3 separate regions of the Homo sapiens genome follow, and regions 1 and 2 are each linked to region 3. Evidence: fine-mapped expression QTL. A gene starts in region 3. Each other region holds a variant in brackets. All regions are shown on one strand. Distances are between the middles of the regions. Region 1 overlaps ARHGAP10 (Rho GTPase activating protein 10). Region 2 overlaps ARHGAP10 (Rho GTPase activating protein 10). Region 3 holds the start of ARHGAP10 (Rho GTPase activating protein 10).

What was found. PIP is the estimated chance that this variant, and not a neighbour inherited with it, causes the effect.
Region 1: its variant is fine-mapped to the expression of ARHGAP10 in whole blood (TOPMed, PIP 0.91).
Region 2: its variant is fine-mapped to the expression of ARHGAP10 in tibial artery (GTEx, PIP 0.98).

The regions. Positions count from the first base shown.
Region 1 is chr4:147,833,171-147,841,350 of GRCh38, reverse strand. The region is part of intron 3 of ARHGAP10 (Rho GTPase activating protein 10); the gene reads right to left. Among named protein-coding and RNA genes, the nearest start is that of MIR4799, 55 kb to the right of the region's middle. The variant A/G (reference allele first, on the strand shown) is at 5,125.
Region 2 is chr4:148,068,873-148,077,052 of GRCh38, reverse strand. ARHGAP10 (Rho GTPase activating protein 10) reads right to left here. Exons shown (of 23, transcript NM_024605.4): 23 at 4,277-5,060. The coding sequence ends at 4,972. Among named protein-coding and RNA genes, the nearest start is that of MIR4799, 290 kb to the right of the region's middle. The variant G/C (reference allele first, on the strand shown) is at 4,347.
Region 3 is chr4:147,727,709-147,735,888 of GRCh38, reverse strand. ARHGAP10 (Rho GTPase activating protein 10) reads right to left here and starts at 3,801. Exons shown (of 23, transcript NM_024605.4): 1 at 3,434-3,801. The coding sequence starts at 3,587. RefSeq lists enhancers at 1,757-1,886, 3,015-3,084, 2,405-3,297, 3,298-4,190 and silencers at 3,195-3,274, 3,585-4,104.

The DNA.
Region 1 (8,180 bases), 110 kb before region 3:
TTATAACCACACATACAGATTACATAATCATATTCCTATAAAATACTTGAACCAGCCAAGAAAAGAAGTCGCAAAATGCCTTGGCTAGTGAGCCTTGGAAAGGGTTTTGGATAGCTCTGCTTGGAAACAAAAGGAAGCTTCTTGAACATGAAATAATCAGATGCTCTCTCCTCACAGCAGAAGTCAGCCAACTTTTTCCATAAAAGACCAGGTAGTAAATAATTTAGGCTTTGCAGCCATGCAGCTGCAGTTCCAACTACTCATCTCTGCTGTGGTAGCACAAAAGCAGCCACAAACAGCATATGAATGATGGGTCCAAGTGTGTTCCAACGAAACTTGACTTACAAAAAGAGGAAGCAAGGTAGGTCAGGCCCATGGGTCACTGTTTGCCAAACCCTGCCTGAAAGGATCATCTTGAGTATCATGGCAAAACAATGCTCTTACGCTTATCTTGTATTTTTAAAAAATATACATTTACAATATTTGCAGCCAATCAGAAGTTGGGAAGGAAGAAGGAATGCTGGATAAAAGAATCACAGTTCAAGGAGCTCTCGAGCTAAAGAGAGGGACTCAAAAGTAGCGCCGTTAGGATTTGCCTGGGATAAGCAATCTACAGGATGCTGAAAGGCAACTGCTCAGGTGTGCAAGATGTCTCGAGAACAGGTCACATGAATTTCATACTGGGCTCAAATCTCCTAAAATGTTCTCTTAACTGAAAGTTTAACATAAGCCAATGGAGCCACAAATTGACCCTGTAACATACACTGATGACACATACCGCCTGAATCCAAACAAGGTAAGCACTCGACTGCATCCCCCGTTAGATTAGAGCTTACCTCAATAGCATGGTTACCACATTTTAAAACAGCCATTTCCAACTGGGGTAAAGCAGGAATGTAACCAGAATGCTAAAAAGGTTTAGGAGGAAGAAATAAAAAAAACTAGATGTTTCATGTGAGTGGGGAGGAAGAGAACATTTAGTGGAAACATGAAAGCTGTCTTTAAATATTTAAATGGGTACTGCATGAGAGAAGAAAAAAAATCATTCTGATTTGCTTAAAGGGAGCAAAGCCAGGTTTGATGGGTAGAAGCTGCAGAGTAGCAGATTTGGGTTTCCTATCATAGGGACTCAAGAGAACTATAATGAAACAGGCTGCCTGGCAAGGTGGTGACCTCCAGCTCCCTCCACATAACCAAGCAGAGACTAGATGACCCATGACCAGGAATACCCTCTCACACATGCCTGCACTGGGAGAAAGCTGGCCAAGAGGACAGCGGAGGTCCTCATCCATCTCTATCAATCTGGGATTCTAAATGAGCTGGGAGACACAGAAGTACAAAGTACATTTCCATGCTGTAGTTTTGAGAATCATGCTACAACAGCAAACTAGAGAATCCATTAGAACTTCACAATTCAAAGTAAAAAGAGTATTATGTAACAGTGTGGAGGATTAAAATGTTTCCCACAATTACTCAAGTCTGAAATCCTTTTTCGTCAGACATTCGGATGTAAGGATCTTAAATGTCTAAAAAGGAAAGGAAAGTTATGTTATCTTAATCTATCCTCCACAGTCCACGCTAGAGCTAAAAAATCTGTTGAGAATAACAACCAACCTGCAGAGAATCAGACTCCACTGTGGGGAGGAACCACTCCAACAACTTTACATTCCCCCACACTGGAAATCAAAGTCTAAGTTCTGATGTCATAAATTCTAAAGACAATAGGACTTAGGGCTATAACCCCATACCCAGTAAAAACACAACAAAGGCATACCTACATCCTATAGTATCTTTAGTAACAATTTTCTAAAGTCTCAGTCTAGGTAAAACTGAGTAAGTCAGTATAACTACTAAATCATGCCTTTCTAATCACTCAGTACTAACAAGGATAGGCTGAGTATAGTGAAACAGAAGGAATTTTACATCCGTTCCCCAGAACACTCATTATTTTAAGCCTGGATTCCACGTGTTTTTGACCCCAGAGGAATGCATAATCTGAGAACAAAGGAATATCTCCCCTATTTTCTCCCATGACCTTCCAGATACTTCCCATTTCATTAAACTAAAGGGAAAATTCTGTTTTCCAATTCTAATGTCAAGAATAGCAGCAAAGAAACCATTCAGCAAAAACACAGCTCTTGTTTTTCCTTGAAACGGAATCTTAAATGGTGCCTAGAAACTTTATATATACATAGACAGACAGACAGATAGATAGATAGATAGATAGATAGATAGATAGATAGATAGATAGATAGATACGATAGATCTAAACATAAAGGAATCTTTTTCCCAAAATGATCTGTTAGGAAAAAAAAGAACTTGCCTCGTGTAAGAGTTCTTAAGAGTCTTCTAAAGGAGTGGACTTTCCCATTATTTTGATCAACAACTGTTTGAGGAATCTTAGCCTAAAATAGCCCTAATCACATTTAGTTTCAGATACTTAGAGATTACAAACAGGACTAAGTTACAAAAACAAAGGGACACTAAGAAATTTAAGATATTTAGTTACAATTCCAGAGATGACTTCAAAATTTTGTATTCAGTAATTTTATAAAGCTCACTTTAAAAGGAATAAGATCAGTGGTTACATTAAACAAATCATAGCCTGGGCAACAAGGCATAAACCCCATCTCTATAAAGAATACAGAAAATTAACTAGGTGGGGTGGCATGCATCTGTAGTCTCAGCTACCCAGGAGGCTGAGGTGGGAGGCTAGTTGAGGCCGAGAGGTTGAGGCTGCAGGGAGCAGTGACTACACCACTGCACTCCAGCCCAAGCAACAGTTAGACCCTGTGAAGAAGAAGAGGAGGAAGAGAAATCATGGAAACATATCCCAGAGTTAAGTCTTTGGTGTGTGTGTGTGTGTGTTTTTTTTTTAAGAGACAAGGGTCTCACTCTGTCACCCAGGCTTGGAGTGCAATGGTGTGATAACAGATCACTACAGCCTCGAAATCATGGGCTGAAACAATCCTCCTGCCTCAGCCTCCTAAGTAGCTGGAATTATGGATTCAAGCCACTGTGCCAGGTTCAGGAATAAGTTTTTTAAAGAGACTGTCCAAATGGGCTGCTAACATATACTTTTGGCTTGAGATAAAATTTCCAGTGAAAGCATCAGAAAGATTTTAGGTGCTATAGCTCAAAGAACTCAGGCAGATGTGGCCATCAATGCTCTGGAAAGCTGTACTGAAAAATTCAGAATGTATCCATGATGAATATACTAATCTCAAAGGTGCCAAGAGCTGGGACAAATTTTTTATTAAATAAGTGCAGAAAATGTTTCTAAAATATATGCTGACTTTGCCTATTATTTGATTTTAAATATGGACACATATTTAATCAAGTAAATGATGAAGGGAGACATCTGATTATCTAGCAGATGTACATATGCATACCTAAAAGTATACGTGTTCAAGTTGTCTGAAACAATTTTATTATGTTTAATCTTCTGGGAAAATAATGTTGTCTTACAATCAGGCACATACAGGAACATCAGTCCTTTTGGGCTGCCCAGCACTTGAAACCCCTTCCTATGTTTGAGGAATTCTCCTTCCCACTGAAACAAAGTCCACCTCCCACCATAAAAGCCAAAAATGACAGACACTGGCTTGCAGTAAGGTAATGACACCTAGCTAGGGTTCCACTAATGAGATGGTCCCATCCAAGACTTGGATTCAAAAGCTACTGCTTTAAAAAAAAAAAAAAAAAAACAGTGACCAGAGATTCTAGCGAGGTGGCAGCAACTAGTCTAATTTCCAGAGGCAGCAGTTCTTCCAACAGCCACAGGGCAGTGAGGCTCTTGGTGCAAACTGTAGTGTCCACATCCAGTAGCAATAGTGGCATCTGCTCTAAGCCCAGCTCTGTGGTACAACCTGGGCATCATTCCTGGTTCCCCACATCTCTTAAAGATACTACAAGAAACCCAATACCCTTTAATGAATTTCCTTTATGTTCAAACTAGCTAGTGCTTGCAATTGAGAATCCAGACTAATAAAGGATTAGTATTTTTTAGAATTTCAGAACCGTATAAACAATCTTGACAAAATGCTTTCGTATTCTTTTCTCTATACTCCTAACACAAGAGTTCCCCTAATTAAACCAATTCATTATCAATTAATTACATCACTCTCCCTCCACACTCACCCTTTGGTACCTCTTTCTCCATCTATCCAGCCTCCCCCGGCCTATACCTTCCCCATCATTCTAGGCTCAAGTTTAAATAGAAAGATTAAGATGGCCAATAAAGTTCCCCCACTTTAATACCTGACATAAGAGAAAGAACAAGAGTCAAAAGACTAATGTTGACAAAAAGTGAAAAAGTTTCACAATCGATTTCGCTACGAGGGCCCTCCAGCACGGAAAAATAGGAGGCCAACGTGTTTTCATTTTGGCTCTGCCCTAACTAGTTCTATTTTTAGATGACAGAAAATAACAATTTCCTTTTGTTACCTGAATATTCTCAACTATAAAGCCAGGAATAATACTTTCTCCCTACCTAAAACAATTTAAAAAAAAAAAGGCACATCATACTTGAAGCAATTGTAACTTCCCAACAAATCCCAGTATGGTATTTTATTTTCAAGCACAGCTCAAGCTAATCTAATTTTCCCAGTAGAGAAACTAATGTAAAAACGAAATTCAATTTTATGATGGCAATAGCTCACACTCATTAGCTAAGTACTAGCTTACTTGGTACTTAGATTTAAGGAACCCACGCACAAAGCTCTAACTGGGACACAGGTGCTCAGGTGCTATAAATTAATTCCACAGGGTTCAAACTTGAAAATCAGGAGCCGATTAATAGGAAATGGCTGTTGAATAATGCCTCATTCTTTCAGACCAAAGACGACTCACATAATAAGCTAGAAACTATGATTTTAAAGTATATATCCCAAATCGACTAGTTCAATTATCACACTTCTGCTTTCATACAGATAATCCAAGAATAAAATGTCCCCAGTAAGAATTTTATCAACTTTCAATCCTGAACTGTGAAAAACTTGAAACCTAGTCCTATTAAAGAGGATTAAGGCTGAAATTCTGACAACTTCTGGTCTCTGATTTAATTCCCTGAATATCTGCCTATGACCTGGCTCTCTCAAAAAATAAAAATAAAAAAAAAGGTCA[A/G]TGTATCACCAAAGTCTACGATTCTCTTAGTATCTATCTTCTACGAACAAGTATGTTAGGGTGTGTTTGCCTCCCACAAAAGAAAAGCTAGCATCCATTCTGAAGGACATTAACTGAAAAAAGATAGCAGAAATTTTATTCAGATTATTTAAATCAAACACAATCTACCTGTAAAGATTTGTTTTTAAGTACACTTAGGAAAAAATGAGAATCATAAAACAAAAGCTACTGAGTATTTAAGGAATGAGTCTGCCTAATAAGGATATGCAGCAGATGCTGAAACTTGATCTTCCTTCCCTCTGTGCATAAGGGACAGTAAGAACCTCGCTTCGATATTTTAAACAAAATAAATACTTGGGAAGAATATTATTATGAGAGGAAATAAAAACCCCATAGAAATTAAAGTTTCATGAGGCAATTTTGAATTTTTTTTTTGTTTTACATAAGAGAAAATTTTAGTTTCTGAAGTGAATGGTATGACTCAGTGGCACAGCTAGAAATGGAACCTCGTGCATACTAAGGCAATAAACTGTTAAATCAAGAAAATAAAATAGGCCAGGCGCAGTGGCTCATGCCTGTAATCCCAGCACTTTGGGAGGCCAAGGCGGGCAGATCACCTGAGGTCAGGAGTTTGAGACCAGCCTGGCCAACATGGTGAAACCCTGTCTCTACTAAAAATACAAAATTTAGCCAGGCATGGTGGCACATGCCTGTAACCCCAGCTACTCAGGGAGACTGAGGCAGGAAAATCTCTGGAACCTGGGAGGCAGAGGCTGCAGTGAGCCAAGATCCTGCCACTGCACTCCAGCCTGGGCGACAGAGCAAGACTTAAGGGAAAAGGAAAAGAAAAAGAAAAAATGTGAGAGAAGAAAAGAAACATTCAGAAAAGAATGGCTTTAATCAATGACAAAAGCTTTTCTTTCCAGCCCATCTGTGATGCACGGGTTAAGAGAAAAAAGTGGCAGTCAACAGTAAAAAACAAGGGCTGCAGGGTTGAAAAACTCTTGGGAACTCATTCTCTACCAGGCGGCCACTAGCTGAGCACTCTGGACAAGGGTTTCCTCATTGTATCCTCAGGTGTGAGAACACGGTGGCTCATAGTAGGCACTCAAAATATTTATAAATGAAGTGGGATTCTCCTATAAATTTAGATAATTTAAAGAACAGCATTTCTACATAAAAGCAACATTTTCTGCTTATAGTGATAATAGCAACCGATGAATGACAATGCTAAGTACCCTGAATCTTTTACTCCAAATGGTTCATTTTTGTTAGTCCAGGTCCTCTAAGAAGCAGACACCAAGACAGGATGAGACACACAAGAAATTTATTAGGGGAAACATCTGTGAGAGAAAATGGGGAGGGAGCCAGGGAAGACTGGAGGGGCCATCAGACAGTGATGCAGGTCTGACCCAGGGGAAGGAGACAGGGAAGGAAAGCAAGCCGGATGGGTGGGTGTGTATGGGTGTGAGGGTGGGGGCAGGTGGGTGGGTGTGCGGGTGGAAGTGGGTGGGTATGTGTATGGGTGTGGGTGTGAGTGTGGGTGGGTGGATGTGTCTGTGTGTTTGTGTGTGTGGGTGAGGCTGCAGTGCCATTCTGGGGTAAGTCTAACAAGGCTGCCGTTAGAAGGCTTGGGACATTCAAACAAGTTGAAACTTAATCCCCAGTCTGGCATTATTGAGAGGTGGGGCCTTAAAAGATGAATGGATTCATCCACTGATGAATTAATGGGTTAATGAATTTTATTAATTTTTTTGAGATGGGGTCTCACTCTATCACCCAGACTCTAGAGTGCAGTGGCACAATAATAGCTCTCTGCAGCCTCAACCTCCCAGGCTCAAGCAATCCTCGCACCTCAGCCTCCCAAGTAGCTGGGCCTACAGATGCGTGCCACCACCACACCTGGCTTCCCCCTGCCCCTGCAGAAATGGGGTCTCATTATGTTGCCCAGACTGGTTTTGAACTCCTGGGCTCAAGCAATCCTCGTGCCTCACCTCCCAAAGTGCTGGGACTACAGGTGTAAGCCACCATTCCCAGCCTAATGAGTTAATGGATTAATGGGTTATCACAGGAGTAGACTGGTGACTTTATAGAAAGAAAAAGGAAGAGAGACCTGGGTCCCCCACTCTTGGACTTCTCAGCCTCCATAACTGTAAGAAACAAATTCCTTTTATTTACCTAGTTGCAGGTATTCTGTTATAAGCAACAGAAAACAGACAAAGATAGGCAGAACGTGGGAGGCATGGCTTTCACACTAACACAACTGTACCACAGAGCAGCTGGGCCTGATAGTCAATGTCACTCCTCCTTCCTCTATCTGAGAGGTGCCCATGGCTGCCACAGCTTCGAAACCATATTTTCCCACTACATTGGCATTTTCTTGAATATCTAACACAATCTCTACCACCAACTTAATATATATATCATTGAATCTAATCACCACCAACTGTAAAACACTCCATTATTTTATATCCTACCACAAAAAAATCCTGCTAATCTTGAAATAATAGCTTAACACTTAGCACTTTTATATACATTGAAAAAGCTCTTTGAAAGGTATGTTTTCATCATGTATCCCTCTTGTGCATAAAGAAGTAAGCAAACTACTTTTGTTAAGATATTTCTAAAACTTCTTCAAAGTCCAACTCCTCTGAATCACTTTTCATCTCAGTCATCAAAATCTGGTTTTTCCCACATGAATTAGTCTGTTTTCACACTGCTATGAAGTTACTGCTTGAGACTGGGTAATTTATAAACAAAAGATGTTTGACTGACTCACAGTTCCACATGGCTGCAGAGGTCTCAGGAAACTTACAATCTTGGCACAAGGGAAGGGAAAGAAGGGCACGTCTTACATGGTGGCAGGAGAGAAACCAAGTTCAGGGTAAACTGCCACTTTTAAACCATCAGCTCTCGTGAGAACTCCCTCACTATAACAAGAACAGCATGGGGAAAACTGGCCCTATGACCCAATCACCTCCCACCAGGTCCCTCCCTCAACACATAGGGATTACAATTCAAGGTGAGATTTGGGTGGGGACACAGAGCCAAACCGT
Region 2 (8,180 bases), 340 kb before region 3:
GCATATAACACTTTCCATGCCTCTGACTGAATCAAGTTTGCTCCAAGCCCATTGGCCAAAGCAAGTTGTGAGGTCAAGCCCTGAGTCAGCCTGAAAGGACTCCACAAAAGGGCATGGGTTTGGGGAGGGGTGAAAGATCAGGATCTTTAAATGTCTACCACACTAGTAGTTACTGAGATATTTTGCTGCAGCATGTATGTTGCCAAGACAGTGGTTTCCAAGTTTTCCCTAGTCTGAAAAAACCCCTTTATATGGATCTCCATGCCCTGAGCCAGCCTGACTGAGGGTGGATGGCAGCACCTGTGAAAACTGGCCTGGCTAGGTCTGATCCTGCTGCTCCTGGCATGGGAGCTGCTCCACCTTGCAGTGTTTCCTTAGTTGCTAAACTCCACAAGGAAGAAGGAATCCAGACACCAAGGCATGGCCCTGAGCTGCCATGCATTCACTGCCCAAATTTAAAGTGCAGGTCTCTTGGGCCAAAAATAGGAGTTCTTCCAATCAAGTTGATCTTCAGATAGAAAGTGTTTTCCAAGGTATTCTTCTAACCGATAGATTGAGATACTTTTAGCTAGACATTTAAGTGTCAGAATGAGCTGGGCTGCCCAAATGAGGTAGCAATAAATTACTGCTCAGGCCAGTCAAGGAGGAAGAGTGCTGACAAGCAACTGAGAAGACATTTGCAGAACTAGGAGTGGGAGAGCTGTTTGAGGACACACTCCTGGAACAGCATCCTCAGAGTGGACAGAGGAAAGCTACGTGGCTCAAGAAGATTCAAGAAGTCATGGAAAACATCTGGCCAGCGAAGGAGTAACCAGAACTGGCTTTGAGAGACTGGAAGGGAGAACTCCTAAGAAGCTGAGAAGATGCCCAGTCTGGAGGTGAATGGGAACAAAGGCAAGTCCAAGAGAGCAGGAGCCTGGAGTGGCGTTGGGAAGGAGGGGAGAGGCTGAGCAATGTCAGCAAAGGACAAGAGCATGGAATGGCTTTTGGAGAAGAGATGCTGGCAGGAAGCAGGCAGTGATTTACAGATGAGAAGGGGGACAGAAACCGACCCCCAACCACCACAGTGTCCTGCTGCCTTGCCTTCTCCAGTCCTCTCCATTTACTAAACCCCACTTCCTACCATGTGCCCATCCAGCACAGGACATTCACTCTCATTTAACTGTCACATCCCACAGGTTGCTTCTCCTCTTTCCATTTCACTGGCACAAACAGAACCATAAAAAGGTCAAGTAACTTACCAGAGATCACCAAGATATAAAATAGCAAAAATAGGATTTCAAAACAGCTTGTTTGTAATGCAACACGCACTTTTCACCACTGTATTACGTTCATAGAGCTACTGTAACAAAGGACCACAAATTGGGCACCTTAAACAGAAATGCATTTTCTCCCAGTTCTGGAGGCTGGAAGTCCAAGATGGAGGTGTCAGCAGGGTTGGTTCCTTCAGTGAGGGCTGAGAGAGAAGGGTCTATTCCAGGCCTCTCCCCTTGGCTTGTAGATGGCTGTCTTCTCCCTGTTTCTCTTCATGTCATCTTTCTTCTATGTGAGTCTGTCTCAGTGTCCAAATTTCTCCTTGTTTTAAGGACATCAGTCATATCGGATTAAGGCCAACCCTACTGTGCTCAGCTTAACTAGCAACATCTGCAAAGATTCTAGTTCCTAATGACATCACATTCTGAGGGACTAGGGGTTAAGGACTTCAACATGTGAATTTGGGGAGTGGGAAACAATTCAACTCATAACAGCATGGCCCTGAGGACAAGATGGCACAGCAGAAAGAACTTTCTGTGACTAGCTTATCGAACCTGAGCAAGCAAGTGCTCGTCTCCATTTTCTCATCCATAAAATGGGCTAATATCTCCTGGCTTGTGCAGTCATTGTAAGGAAAGAATGAGTTAGACATCCATCTCTGGCATGGACACCCATTGCTTTTCCCTTCCATACCCCCAACTGCATGTGTGGCTGCTACTACAAAGGAAGGAAGTTGGGGCTGCAGCCCCTGCAAGTCCTTTGGCTCTGTTTTCACCTGGCATCTCCTTTACAGGTGCAGGGAACACCAGGGAAGGCCCTGTGGGTGGCACCATCAGATGCAAGCCCTGCAGCCCCAGTGTCAACAAGAAACACATAGCCCAAGTGCTCTTTTTTGCCCCAAACCACCATACTGCCTCTGAATGAACACAGGCTATGGACCTGGTCTAGGCAGGCGCAGTTGGTGCTGCAGTCGCTGAGCAAGGTAGGGCTGAGGGAAGTCCAGGCAGCCTCAGCAGAGCCTTGGGGAGCAGCCGCACCCATCCAACTAAAACAGCAAAACATACTCCGCTCCTCTTCTAGGGGAAGGAAGATGATCCACCAAAGTAAGAAAACACCTCCTGATCCCATTCCTCAGTACATCCTGGGCCATGTCCAGGGGTAAGCTCCCTGCCCAGAGGCCTTGGCAGTCCTGGCCACACTGCTGTGCACGTGTCACATTCTCAGACAGAAACACCCCTGCTCCCCTCTGGCACTACCCCACTCTTCCACAGAGCCACAGGAGGGGTCTTCAGCTCTTAAGGCTACAGGAGCCTCCACAGGGCACAGCTGTAGAACTTCACTACTTGTCACCCCATCATCCTAAGGAACACAGAAGACCCTGATGACAAAGATGCAAGATACTGCTATTCTTATTCGTAGAACTAAGAAAAACGGGAACAGCAGTTCCTGTTAGCCAAGCCCTCCCCACATACTGGGTGCGCTGCTTCTATTAGGTCATTTCAACCCCAAACCTCTCAGTATCATTTTATTTTTAGGAGGCTTTAACAGAATCATGGGGGTAACCGATCTTGCCCAAGGTCACATAGATAGCCAGACTTGGTGGTGATTTCTTTAAGTGGTGGTAAAAGCACTTTGAGGGGAACGGCTGGTTGGGTGCATCTCACTGTTAACAATAGGAATCTCCAGCAAGCAAACAAATCAATCAAGGCCTGATGCAGGGAGATTTTTAATGGCCCCTGGGATACACCAATTAGGAATCTGCCAGGAAGCCACTCCCAACACTAACCTGAGCCTGCTCTAGCTGCCCACAGGTTTGCCTTTTCCTGCAGAGGGGCTCTCACAGAAGTGGAACATGCCAGAAACCTCTTCTCACGAGTCAAGTTTCCTTTCTACATCCCAAGCAACAAGTCAGGGCAGCAATGACAACTCAGAAAACAGGCTACTGGAGGTTATGCTGCCCCAGCCCTAGGGCCAAGCCAGCCCCGGCCCACACCTCAGACCCGCTTGTGGTAGGGTGGCCCTGGGCTCCTCTGTGGTCTCAATGCTCTTCACGGGGCCCGTGATTATTTTAAATTATGTTGCATCGAAATTGTCCTTATTTTTATTTACAATACGGACACTTTTCAAGAATCACATTTCCCCATACACATACAACTCCCAAACTCCACACCCTCACGTGATCCACATGAGGTGACTTCCAAGCTGTTAACTGGCAAGCTCTTGAGTCAGTTCATCTGGGGATGAGGCAACAGACACATCCGTCCTTTGATAAATGTTTGAGAGAAGTCTGACAGGTCCAGGAACCTCCCATGGGGATGCATGGAAAGTCATGCCTGCCCCAGAGCAGCCTCTGGGGCATGGGGCTGGCTTCAGAATCCTGAGGCCACTAAAACTAAGCCCCACATTCCAAGGCAAGTCCCCTCTTCCCCAAGAGGTTGTTGCACCTGTGGCTTGTAGGTGGAGGAGAATGAGGAAACATCAGAGCAAGGCCTGCCCAGGCTGGGGGTGGCCATCATCACGGGGCAGGGCAGGGTCAAGGGTGAAGGCTCCTCCAGGAAGGTCTGCTCTGCCTCCCTCTCCTCCCTCCACGTCGAAATTAATCCAGATGGAGAGATTAGCAGGGAGGCCTGGAAGGCAGAGGCATGCTGGGTGGTGTAGGAGAGGGGTGTACAATGGTGCTGGTAGGACGGCTGGTCCCAGGGCACTGAGATGGCTCACACAAACCACCCAGGGCCAAAGCCCCAGCCCTGCTCCAGGTCCTGCAGGCACCAGGGTAGAGAGGCCTGTGCAGCCACTGGAGGAGGTGTGAATGCCCTTCCAGGATTGCACACATCAGAGGCTGCTGCTGCCCCCAGGAACACGCCCCACCCCGAATACTCCAGGCTCCCCGCTAACAGATTCTACCTGTGAGCAGGCCAACAGCAGAGAGAGACGAGTCCCCATCGTAGGCTGCCAATTCATAAATCAAGACGGGGCAATGACTTCCACGACCGCTTCCCCACATTAGGACAGACAAATCAAATAGTAAATTACAGTTTATTTCATTTACAGAGACCTTGAGGCAAAAAGGTGGTGTTTGGAAAACAGCACAC[G/C]GGTGAGGAGCACCGAGAAGCCTGTTACAAATACGCCAGTGCACGCTGCCAGTGCAGTGAGTGTGGGGTCCTGCAGGTGGCCGTCTAGGAAGGGCAGGCTTGAGACGCGCGTCTCTGCTTCCCTCTGACTTGAGACCATCTCCCTTGCACCAACAGCAGCTTCTCCAAGCTAGGCTGCCACAGCCAAGCACACACTCTGCAAACCTATCACTGCGAGTAGTACAGTTCCCTTTAAAATCGCAGCAGCAGGTGCTCAGGGAGGAGAGGGAGCCAGGGTGGCTCTGGTGGCGTGACTGCCAGTGGAGGCGACACAGGTGGCAGAAGGCTGCCCTCCCTCTCATTCTATATGCTGGATAATTAAAAATCACAAGTCCCAATACTTGACAAATGAAAAGTCCATTTTGCGAATCCTGACATTCCCCTCCTGATCCACAATCACAGTTCTGTGTGGTGCGTCCCATCCCTGCCCACCACCCCCCACCCCCAGGGCTGACTGTGATGATGGTAACTCCCAAGTGTGGAGGTACCTGTGGGTGCAGCCCAGAGCCTCGGAGGAGGAAGACAGCTCTCTGCCCCCAGGCAGGTCCCTGGGTGCCAGGGTCAGCAGGGGCTCTGAGGCCAGGAGCTACAGCAGCTTGACGTAGTTCTGTGGAATCAGCCCCCTCTTGCCGTTCAGAGTCCCTTCTAGCCAGCCAGGTTCCCTGGAGGTTTGTACTGAAAAGGAAGAGAAAAATCACTTTTACAAAATGCCCCCAAGTACTTGCCTCCTGGGTGTTCACTTAAAAGCTCAAGCAGGGAGTGGCCAGTAGAGAACAGGGGCCACTTCTGGGATGTTGGGTCACAAAGTCTGCACCAGGGTCATTGACAGGCTCTGCCTCCCTGCACTGGCCACCACAATCCTCATCTACACAATCCCAAAGCAGCCTCCTAACTAGTGTCCTAGTTTCCAGAGTCCGGCCCCTTCCAATCCACTGTGCACGAACATGCACAGTGAACTCTCTAGAACACAGAGCTGATCACATCACTCCCCTGCTTAAAGTCAAACTCAAGCTTTTTGTGTTTTTTTTTGTTTGTTTGTTTGTTTTCTTCCTGAGAGGGAGTCTCGCTCTGTCGCCCAGGCTGGAGTGCGGTGGCGCGATCTCGGCTCACTGCAATCTCTGCCTCCCGGATTCAAGCAATTCTCCTGCCTCAGCCTCCTGAGTAGCTGGGATTACAGGCACGCACCACCATGCCTGGCTAATTTTTGTATTTTTAGTAGAGATGGGGTTTCACCACATTGGCCAGCCTGCTCTTAAACTCCTGACCTCAGGTGATCCACTCGCCTTGGCCCCCCAGAGTGCTGGGATTACAGGCGTGAGCCACCACTCCCAGCCTCAAACTCAAGCTCCTTACTGGTCTGTAACACAGGCCCCTGGGCACCTGGCTCCAGCCGCCCCTCCAGGAGCTCTTCACACTCCACTGGCACATCATGCATGTCAACTGCAGTGAATCATCCAGAGAAATCCCAACTGCAACTCCAGGCCTTTGCAAGTGCAGTGGCTTCTGACTGGAATGCCTTTCCCCCACCTCTTCACCAGGTAGTTCCTCCTGTTTAGAGACCTGATTGGATGCCTCCTCCTCTCAGAGTCTCGTCTGACTCCCACACTGTATGGGAAACTCCTGAAGGCAGCCTGAGCCTTATACATCTGGGCATGGTGCCTGGCACAATGGACTGTTCATAAATATTCACGTGATACTCAACGAGAAAATTGCAGCCTGGACAGCAAAGGGCACAGGTCCAAGCACTCCTCACCAGTGTTCGGAAATGCAATACAGAAGCATTTCATAACCCCCAGCTGTGAGCAGGCCCCAGCTCAAACCCCCAACCATGGTCAGGTGCAGGCGTGGCAGCCGTGGCATAAAGGAAAGGGGAGGCATGAGCTACTCCAGCGGACCAACTCGAAAGGTGGCTTCTGATCACAACCCAGGAGAATAATTTCATATCAAAAACCAAGTACAGGCATACACATCCGTAACACACACAAGTTTCATGAAGCAATACTCTTACCCTCACTGCGCGCATGCAATGCCTTCCTTTCTGTATTCTACTCTTTTTTTCCCCATAGATTTGTGTAGAAAAGTATTATTCTTTGAATGCTAATTGCAACTCAGCGAATTGAGTTCATGGTCCTCTAAGGTATAGCTGCCCACAGTTTGGAAGACAGGGACAATCCAATTCTAATTGTCCTTTGCAACAAGGTAACTGTTTGTTCTTCCCTCCCCTGGATGAATAGGAACACATTCCGGCTGTCTGCAGACTAACCGCCTGCACTTTCCTTACATTCAGTAAGCTTCTGGCTTCAACGCCTCCCTGGAGCTGTTCCCTTGGGCCTGAATGCTATTCCCTGCCTTTATGCCTGGACAGCACCTACTCATGCTTCAAAGAGCAGCTTCAGCATCCCCCCACTTCCAGGACTCCTCTCCTGGCTCCAGACCAGGTCGGGGCTCCCAGTTATGCACCCTACATGTTCTGTGTGCGTGTGTGCAGGCATACGTGTATATATAGGAGAGACACACTGAGACATTCTCTTCTAGTCCAGACTATGAGAGCATGTAACACATATAACATGAGACCCAGCACCTAGCACCGTGTCAGACACATGATTATCTGTGTAATGACTGAGTAAGCAAATTCAGAGATGTGCTCTCAAAGCGATCTGGCAGCAAGTTACTTCCTTCATGCCTTCACTGACCTTGACTCTGACATTGTTCTTCATACCAGGATTTTTAGAGACTTCTCACTTCATCCAAACACCCCAGCTGGCAGTGCTACTAGTGTGCAGCCACCATCAGGGAAAAGCTTTGGATTCTATGCAAAACAGGCCCTCAGGGTTGTAACAATGTGGGGGCCTGAGTGGCAAGGGGCCCAGGGCTGAAGTCAGAGCCCTAGAGGAGACTCCTGGCTACCTAGATGCATCTGGGAAATTAACCCCTGGGCCTTGCTCGGCTGTTACCTGCAATACGGGGTTACTAGCACTTAGCTTGCAGGACCTGCTATGAGGAGGCAGTAAGAGAGTCTCAAATATAGTCTCACCTGCACATGCTCACTATTTCTCCTCCTACCCTATACACACCACACACTTGCGCAAGCACAGACTCGGTATTAATAAAAGACAGGATGAACAGAGGAGGAAAAAGGTGATTTTCTACAACGCTGGAGGTGAAAGGAGGCTTGATTGGGGAAACCAAGGCCAGGCCGGGAATCCTGCATCTCCCCAACCAACAAACCAGAGAGACGCCTCCACAACCCCATTCACCACCTCCCCAGCCCTCCCCTCCCTGGAAGGCAGAAGCCAGTAGGGAGAGAGATGTCACTGCTTTACAGAGGCGACCAAGGGGGATCCTGTAACATCCAAGAGCCTTGGAAGTGGACCCAGCTGAGCAGTGGGCGAGGTGGGCTACAAGGGTCTGGAGACCAACAGCAAGGCATCCCCAAGCACAGGAAAAGTGGCTCCGCAGTTGCAGATAAGGCTGGCAGGCTCTCCCTCCCTCTCTGAAGATCTGACCTCTCTCAGTAGCATCGAACCCCAAAATACCCATCTGGGGCTCCTCTCCTAGTTTATCACACCACTCCTCCCCCAAGCAGTGTCTACGCGGACAACAGGGCTCTGCTTTTCCATTCTTATGGGTGGAGAACATGGCAGTCTCAGTGTCTGTCATTTCCCACGCACCCTCCCTATGCCTGCAGGTCTCAGTCCAGGAACCTCACCCTGCTTCAGCCACGGTGTCCTCACAGCCTTTAGACCACAACAGGGAACAAGACGGGTGTGAGGCAGGGACCCCAAGTAGCACCAA
Region 3 (8,180 bases):
GCTTACAAAAGTTTAAACTGCATTTAAAGAAGACACTGGTTATTTTAAGAAAAGAAAGTACTTTAAAAAGAAAACTAAAAAAGCCATTTGAACAAAGAATTCATTGAATTGAGTGAATAATCTCCAAATCCACCACTAAAATGACTGGCTCTTCTCTCTGGAGTTCCTCCCCACCCCTAGCGCTATCCCCAACTTCACCCTACACACAAATGTGCGATACTGTCTCTAAACCATCTCTTTGCTATTATGTCAGCCTTCTGCTGAAAAGCCTTCAGTAACTCTCCACAAGATAAAGTCCACATTCCTAACCTTGTTTTTATGGCCCTCCATAATCTAAAACTGACCTCTCCATCCATCCCAGTCTACTACTCCCTGAAAAACCACCATTCCAGCCAAACTAGTCTCTTCAAACACTCGAGTGTTCTGGTTTCTTCTGGTTTCCAATATGATAAGGTTCTACTCCTTATCACCAGTGAGTTCCAAAACTTTCACAAACCTCCTCCACTCTAACATACAAACCCTTGTCCCTGGAAAAGTTAGAATACTTGTCACTAAATGTTTAACCTTGTCACAGGTATGTGTCTATATCCTTTGTTTCTTCAAGAATTTAGCACAGTGCAGGAAGGAGTTCAAAAATGTTCCTTAGATTGAAGTAATTTCAACTACAGGACAGTAAACTCAAGGGCAAGGGCCTCTACCCCATTATAAATCCGTATCTAATTCCAGTATTTAGCAAATTATAGGTGCTAAATATTTGCAGATTGCTACCTAATTGAATTCAGCAGTAAGCCTTCAGGTCGCATAGGCCTCAAAACTCTAAATATTTATGGAAGACTTCAAAGCATCAAGCCATCAAAATTACATATTGAAATCTTCCAAGAATGTAATGCAAACAGGAGACACCGTGCAGGGCAATTAAAAATAGAAATCACTTAAATACACACTTCTCGAAATGCTCAAAAGGTCATTTTTGTAAAATAAAATATAAAATATCTGGAAATATAAATAATCTGACCTAGTGGGTTTTATTCTTTCTGTAGATCCTCCACCCAATGTCATCCCTTGACTCTCTGATGTTATACAAAAGCTCAACTGGTTAGATGAACCATTTACCTAGACTGCAGTTTCAAATAACCTCATCAAGCCATTTTCAAATGCTGCAGAACCTTATTAGTTCCCCTAAGAGGTAGACAGGGGAAGTTGGACGCAAAAGAATAAGACCTGCTCAATTTTCCTATAGCCACGCCCTAACCAGTGAAGAAGAATTAAATTCAGGTCCCCTGACTTTAGTCCAAGGCTCTTAGTCTTTGATAGGAACTAGAAGTAAACTTTATGGAGCAAGCGGGAAAAGGCATGTGAGCTACAGCTGTGTTCCTGTCACCTTCTGGGAAAGAATTTAAACATAAATTCTTAATGAACATAACGAGAAAAAAAGACACTTCCCAATTACTCTCAAAGCATGATTACAAGTTATGTTTCTTATGCTAAAGGACGAGAATCAAAATGAGTAAGATACTAATTCACAAATTCAAGAAAGTCTACAGTCTGGAGGAAAGCTGACATCTGGCCCCCCAGATGCACTGGCTGCTGCTGGAACCTAACGCATGTGTCCTGATGGCAGGAAAGCTAATATGCTGTCACAGAAATAGCTTTCTACCAGTGGCCAAACTGGCTTTGCCCTCTGCCTCTCTCCACACCTCTCTAGCTCCAGAGGGAACTACTACAACCAATGAGAGAGAAGGTACATTCTCCCGGCCACTGACTCTGGTTAACATCAAGTTACAGAAAGAGTCCTCAGTCCTCATTCTCTCGTGTTCACTCTGCACCCCCGCTCCCAACTCCTCCTTTCTATGCTCACTCCTCCATATGTATAGGCGCCCCCCTACTTCCCACCCAACACACATACCAGATGCCAAGGGCCTGGAGAGCCCTCAACCAAATAAGCCCACTTGTCACATGTCCCAGAGTCCCATTTCTGATTCAAGCAGCAGAGACTTAAAAACAAAACAAAAAAACCCTAAGTGAGTCCCAGTCCTGATTTTGCAACACCAAAGAGGTCAGAGAACCAAAAGGAACCTTGGAGATCATCCAGAGAAGTTGAGTGACTTGCCTCCAAAATTACAGGGATGGCTCACTAAATTCTTCCCACAGAAATGTACTTCAACTTATTCATTAAATGCATATTTACTGTACCAGGCACCATGCTGGGTGCCCGAGACAGTATAATCAATATGTTTTAATCGCCCTTACTGAAAAATGGGGCGGGGCGCGGTCGGGAGAACAGTGAGATGGGGGATTTTCCCCAGAGGTGGTATCTACAAACAAATGTACAAGGGACGAATACCTAAGGCTGAGAATTACTGAACTGAGAATCTAGGTGAGTGATGAAGGCCCTAAGAACCCAGCCCCTCAAGGCTGGATACTGCCCAAGTCCCTGTCTGCTGTATGGACAGGTCTTTTAAAGGGGGAAAGGGGACATTCACCGCCATCCTCCGAAGGGGTTATGGATCCAAGGGATGGTCAGGCTGCCCAGCTCCTCACTGGGGCTAATTCCGCCCCATTTTCCAGTAGCATCACTAACTCAGTATTTCTGCATGAATTTTGGCCCCTTCTCTCCTAGAAAGACTCTCCTCAACTACACTAAAATACAGTTATCTCTCCTGTATCTCGTGTCTTCTTCCGAGTTTAAGAGACAGAAGTTCAGGGGAGGAAGGCACCAAGCCTAACCGGGGTGGAATTCCCTATTTGCAAGCAGTGCCCGCCTAGGCTAGAGGGCAGGCTGTCCGCTCACCCTTCCAAACCCCAATCTTTGAACCCTCCTCAGCACGGCAGGGGAGGAATGTGCGGAAGCAGCATAAAGCCAGGTGGACTTTCTGGTTTGGCACGTGAAGGACCTGGAACAGGACTGTCGGGGAAGATCAGACAATGAGAGGGAAAAGGTGAAGCTTAAGGGGACTCTGGAAAACTCAACACTCCCGCAGGGTTTCAAAGAATCCCCAAGAAATTTCTTTTGAGAAGTCACAAAACAAAACTAGGCAAACAGATGCCTCGGTTTTGTAAGAGATTGTGAGTAGCTTTAGGCAGCAATGAAACCTGACTCCGGGCCAGGAGTGCCTAGGGTCGGTCCAGCGGAGCGCGCATTCAGCGAGGGGTGTTCGGCCGGGGCCAGGCGGGGCCCAGGCGGGGCCCGCTGGCAGCTGGTTCCCGCCGCCGCAGAGCCGCAGGGGCGGGAATGGGGACTCGCCGCGCTGCCTCGAGGAGGAATGATTCCAGGGACCCCCCGGGGTTCCGAGAGAGCTGGGCTGGTCCGGAATGAATTCCCCGTTCCTCTGGCTGCTGGCCCCGGACACAAGACCCTCCGTCTCCTGCCGAGAGAGGCTCCCCCAGCCGCCTCGCCACGCCGCAGCCCGTCCGCGCCCGCGTCCCCGCTTACTTTTCGTCGCAGCGATGAGGTTCTTCCCGTCCTTAATGAGCTCTTTGATGAACTTGTTGGTCCTCTCGAGTTCCGCTTCGTGAGCGCGGATCCTCTCCCGGAACCACGGGCTGTCGAGGTAGCAGTCGCTGAACTCCAGGGGCTGCAGCCCCATGACGGCAGCGGTCGCTGCGCGGTGCGCACGGCCGCGCGCTCCTGCCCGAGCCGAGCTCCGAGGCCGCTGCCAGGTGCGGCGCCGCGCGTTCAGGGAGCACAGAGGAGCTAGCAGGCCCGGGCGCGCGGCGAGCGCGGCACGGACATGTCCCGTAGAGCCGAGTCCTGCGGCGCGGAGGAGCTGCCACCGAGACCAGCGCTAGCTGCGGCGCCCCAATCCCGGCAGCCCCCGCCGAGCTCTGAGCGCCCGCGGCCCCGCCCCGCCCGGCCCCCGCGCGGCAGACACTCCCCGAGGCGCCACCCGGCCGGGCCCGCGCTCCCGCTCGTCCCCTTCTCTTTCCTCCGCCTTCCTTCTTCCTCCCTTCCCTTCCCTGGACGCCTCTTCCTTCTCTTCCCCACGCGCAGCTGCCCCTCCTCTTCCTTCCGAGGCGTCCTGGGGCTAGAATTTCGCCCCGCGGCTCCCCTCCACCCTGGGCGCTCTCCCCTCCCCTTTGCTTGGGCTCCCGGGGCCGGGGTGACTCACAGTCGGCTCCCCGCTGCACGGAACCCGACCGGGACCGAGAAGGAGCGTCTTAATTGCAGTCGTTAGTCCCCGCAGGCGGGCGACATAACTCTGAAGTGGCTGCCTTGCAGGAGATGATTAACTCATTTATCTCATTTATCCTGGGACGCCCCCAACCCCGAGCTGGGAACGAACTCGCACAGGGGGCTCTTTTCCTTATCCCGGTTCCTTTCCCAGTTTAAAGTGAGATGCGTGGTAAATCTCCGCTTGAGATCGAAGCCTTACAATGGCAAGAGCGTTTTCTTGGTGGCCCAGCAGCTCCTATTACACTTCTCTGCGTATCCGCACTAAATAACTTAGTTGAAGAGAGAGGGCTGGCTAAACCACAGAAAAGTTGTTTCTGTTGTGTTCAGCACATTAAATTTGCTGGGGTAGGTGAAGACGATCTTTATTATTCTAAAAATAACTACCGGAAAACATGCCAGGTAACGTGTGGTTTTCACCGCGTGGGGGTGACGATCAATGAGAATTTATGTCAGTGCCCTCAAAAAGCCTATTTTGTGTGTTATGAAACAACTCCAGTGTGTCCCAAAAAAAGTTAGGCATTTTAAAGTATTAAAATGTATACCTTAGGCCGGACGTGGTGGCTCACGCCTGTAATCCCAACACTTTGGGAGACGGAGGCGGGTAGATCACCTGAGGTCAGGAGTTGGAGACCAGCTGGCTAACATGGTGAAACCCCGTCTCTACTTAAAATACAAAAAGTACCCGGGTGCGGTGGCACGTGCCTGTAGTCCCAGCTGAGGCAGGAGAATCGCTTGAACCCAGGAGGCGGAGGTTGCAGTGAGTCGTGATGGTGCCACTGCACTCCAGCCTGGGCGACAGAGCGAGACAATGTCTCAAAAAAAAAAAAAAGTATTTCTTAAAAAAAAACACTAATAGTTCATTAGAGTAACGTTTCATAATCGCAATTTATTAAGCAATTATTATGTGCCGGGCACCCACTAGGAACTCCATACATCTACAAACTCGCGATATAGACTTACATGATATGATGGTAATATTAACGAGAAACTTCAAAGTAATTCCTCAAGACGTTCAGACTCTCAGCTGGGTAATTAAGAATCTGTTTGGACAGCATGTTGTAGGAGGGTAACCCTCCCGAACAAGTTAAATAAGCCTCCTACTCAATAAGCCCTTTTGTTACAAAACAGCACCAGGAGTGCCTAACCCACAGATAAACATTATTACTCTAATGTCCATCCTCCAGAGAGTTCAAAGTGTTTTACAAATAACTTTTAGGCGGTGAAAGCTTCAGTTCCTACTAAAACCAGCAGGAGACTGGAGTCTACAGAAAAGAGAATAAAAGAGGCAAATAAAGGGGAAGAAAGACAAGAAGAGAGGGGGTGTAAACAAAAATGAGGGCCTAGCGAAACAGCCAAGCACTGACCACACTCAATCCTCAGAGCAGAAACCCAAACCTTTTCTCATAGAGGGGCTGCTGAGACTTCTTCAATATTGAACATGGAGGTTACCGTGTGACCCAGCAAGTCCACGCTTAGATATATACCCAAAAGAAATGAAAATATATGTCCACGCAAATATTTACACACAAATATTCATAGCAGCATTATTCGTAATAGCCAAAAAGTAGAATCAACCAAAATGTCCTTTGTCAGCTGTGTAATGGATGCACAAAATGTTTGTCCATAAAATGAAATATTAATCTACAATAAAAAGGAATGAAGTACTGACACGTGCTACGGCACAATAACGGTGAAAACGTTATACTAAGTAAAAGAACCTAGCTGCAAAAGGCCAATACTATCTACTTATATTAAATGTCCAAAACAGGTAAATCTATAGAGGCAGAAAGATTAGTGGTTGCTAGAGACTGGGGGATAGAGTGGAGGGTATATGTAGTCAGGAGTTTATTTTCAGGGTGATGAAAATTATTAATATTTTTATTTTTCATAGAGATAGGGTCTCACTATGTTGCCCAGGCTTTTCTCAAACTCCTTAGTTCAAATGATGCTCCCACCTTGGTCTCCCAAATTGCTGGAGTTATGGGAGTGAGCCGCCGAGCCTGGCCGAAAACAATTTAAATTTACATTTTGGTAATGGTTGCACAATTCTGAATATACTCAAAATCACTTAATTGTATGTGATAAATGGGTGGATTTCTTTTGGTCTGTGAAATATATCTCAATAAAAAATTTTTTTTAAGATGAACTACTCTAGAACTGCTTCTCCTTTACCACATTAGACTTCAAGCCGTAAAAACTCTGGTTTATTCAGTGTGCCCAGTTCTTTAGATATTTGGAGAAAAAAAAAAGTTGTTTAAAACAATGTCAAAACATCATAAAAAATATTACTTATCACTTCACACACATGTACACCCAGTGTTAAAGAGCTAGTGAATATGAATCTTAATTCATTACCAAATAGGTCCACAATAATTACCATGAGTGGAGGGGCCTGATTAATTTTGTTTTATTCAGCTATGCCTATGCAGTGTCTGGTATACAAGTGATCAGTAAATGTGGAATGAATAAGTATAACTAACTGAAGAGAAATCTCTGTACAGTGGACAGTGGAAAGATAGATATTTAGTAGTTCCAGCTCCAGCTTTACTACTTAACAGTTGTGCAACCTTAGCAAAGGTAATTTTCTGTAAACCTCAGACTTACCATCAGTGAAATGGAGATGATGACATTGCAGCTGCAGGTTGCTTGAGAAGATTTAATGAAATTGTGTTTGTAAAGTGCCTGCTGAAAATTATGATAATAATGAGACTCAAGGAAGAAGGAAGTGTGGAGGATGGGCTGAAGAGAGGGATGAGGGAGAGGAGGAGACAGATTACATTCCATCAATGTGGGAAAGATTTTCGGGGCAGGAGAGCCCTTAAATCATGGTTTTAAACCATGTAAGACAGAACTCAAGAAAAGTGGCCACAAAAGCAGATGCTACTGAGTTTCCAGGTTTCATCTTAATTAATCAATTATTCCCACAAATATTTACTGATCATTTATATGTATTAGGCACCGTATTAGGTGCTCATGATGCAGCAGCACACAAAACAGTCCTCACCGTGCTTTTGGTCTCTGGGGGAGACTGGCCTCATCCCAAAAAAAAAGAAAAAGAAAAATCACACACATATATATCCAATTGAAAATTGAAGCACCATGCAGTTAAAGTGAAGGGTGTGTGAGAGATTATAATTGGAACACCTGATGGAGATTGGGGCTGGGTCAAGGAAGGCCTCATTGAGGAAGTGATATGAAAATGATAATTTAATCAATGACCAGGAATATCAGTAGGAGTTAACTGTTAAATAGGGGTAGGAACAGAGTAGTACAGACATGGGACCAGCTTGTGCAGGCCCCTGAGATGGCACACTCAAGAGATGAACAGGTCGGTGGCTGAAGCCCAGTGAGAGAGACTGGCTCACAACTATGCCAGGTGGTGGAGGATAGGCAGGGTCAGATGGTGCAGAGCCTCTAAGTCTTATTTAGGATTTGGGACTGTATCCCAACACTGTTGGGAGCCTTTAAAGAGTTTTATGCATGTAGTAAAATGATCCGGATTGTGTTTTCTCTCTAGCTGCTGTGTGGAGAATGGAAATCCAGACAGAAGGTGGTTGGAGTTGTCTGGGCAAGAAATGGAATAGCTCAATCCTCCAAGGTGACCCTCCAAGGAAACAGCGAGAAATAGACAGAAATGAAGTATATTTTAGAAGGAGATTCTGGGACTTGACAATAGCCTGGATATTGGAAATGAGGAAGAAGGGGTCAGCGGTGGCCCCCAGGCTTGTGGCATGGTAAGTTAGGTGGATGGATATGCCACTTACTGAAAGGATAACATGAGGTAAGAAGCTGTCATGGCAGTGTTGGTGATGACTGGGTTGGAAGGATGCGTTTCAGTATAAACTCATGAAATGTTTGAGATGCCTGGGAGACATTCAAGTACTTAAGTCATGTAGGCACTGACACCCAAATGGCATTTTTATGCTTTACTCAGTGCTTGGATTAGTTAGGGATTTGAATCAATGCAAGCTGGTCAAGTTTCAGTCTACATGAAATAGAGGTTAAC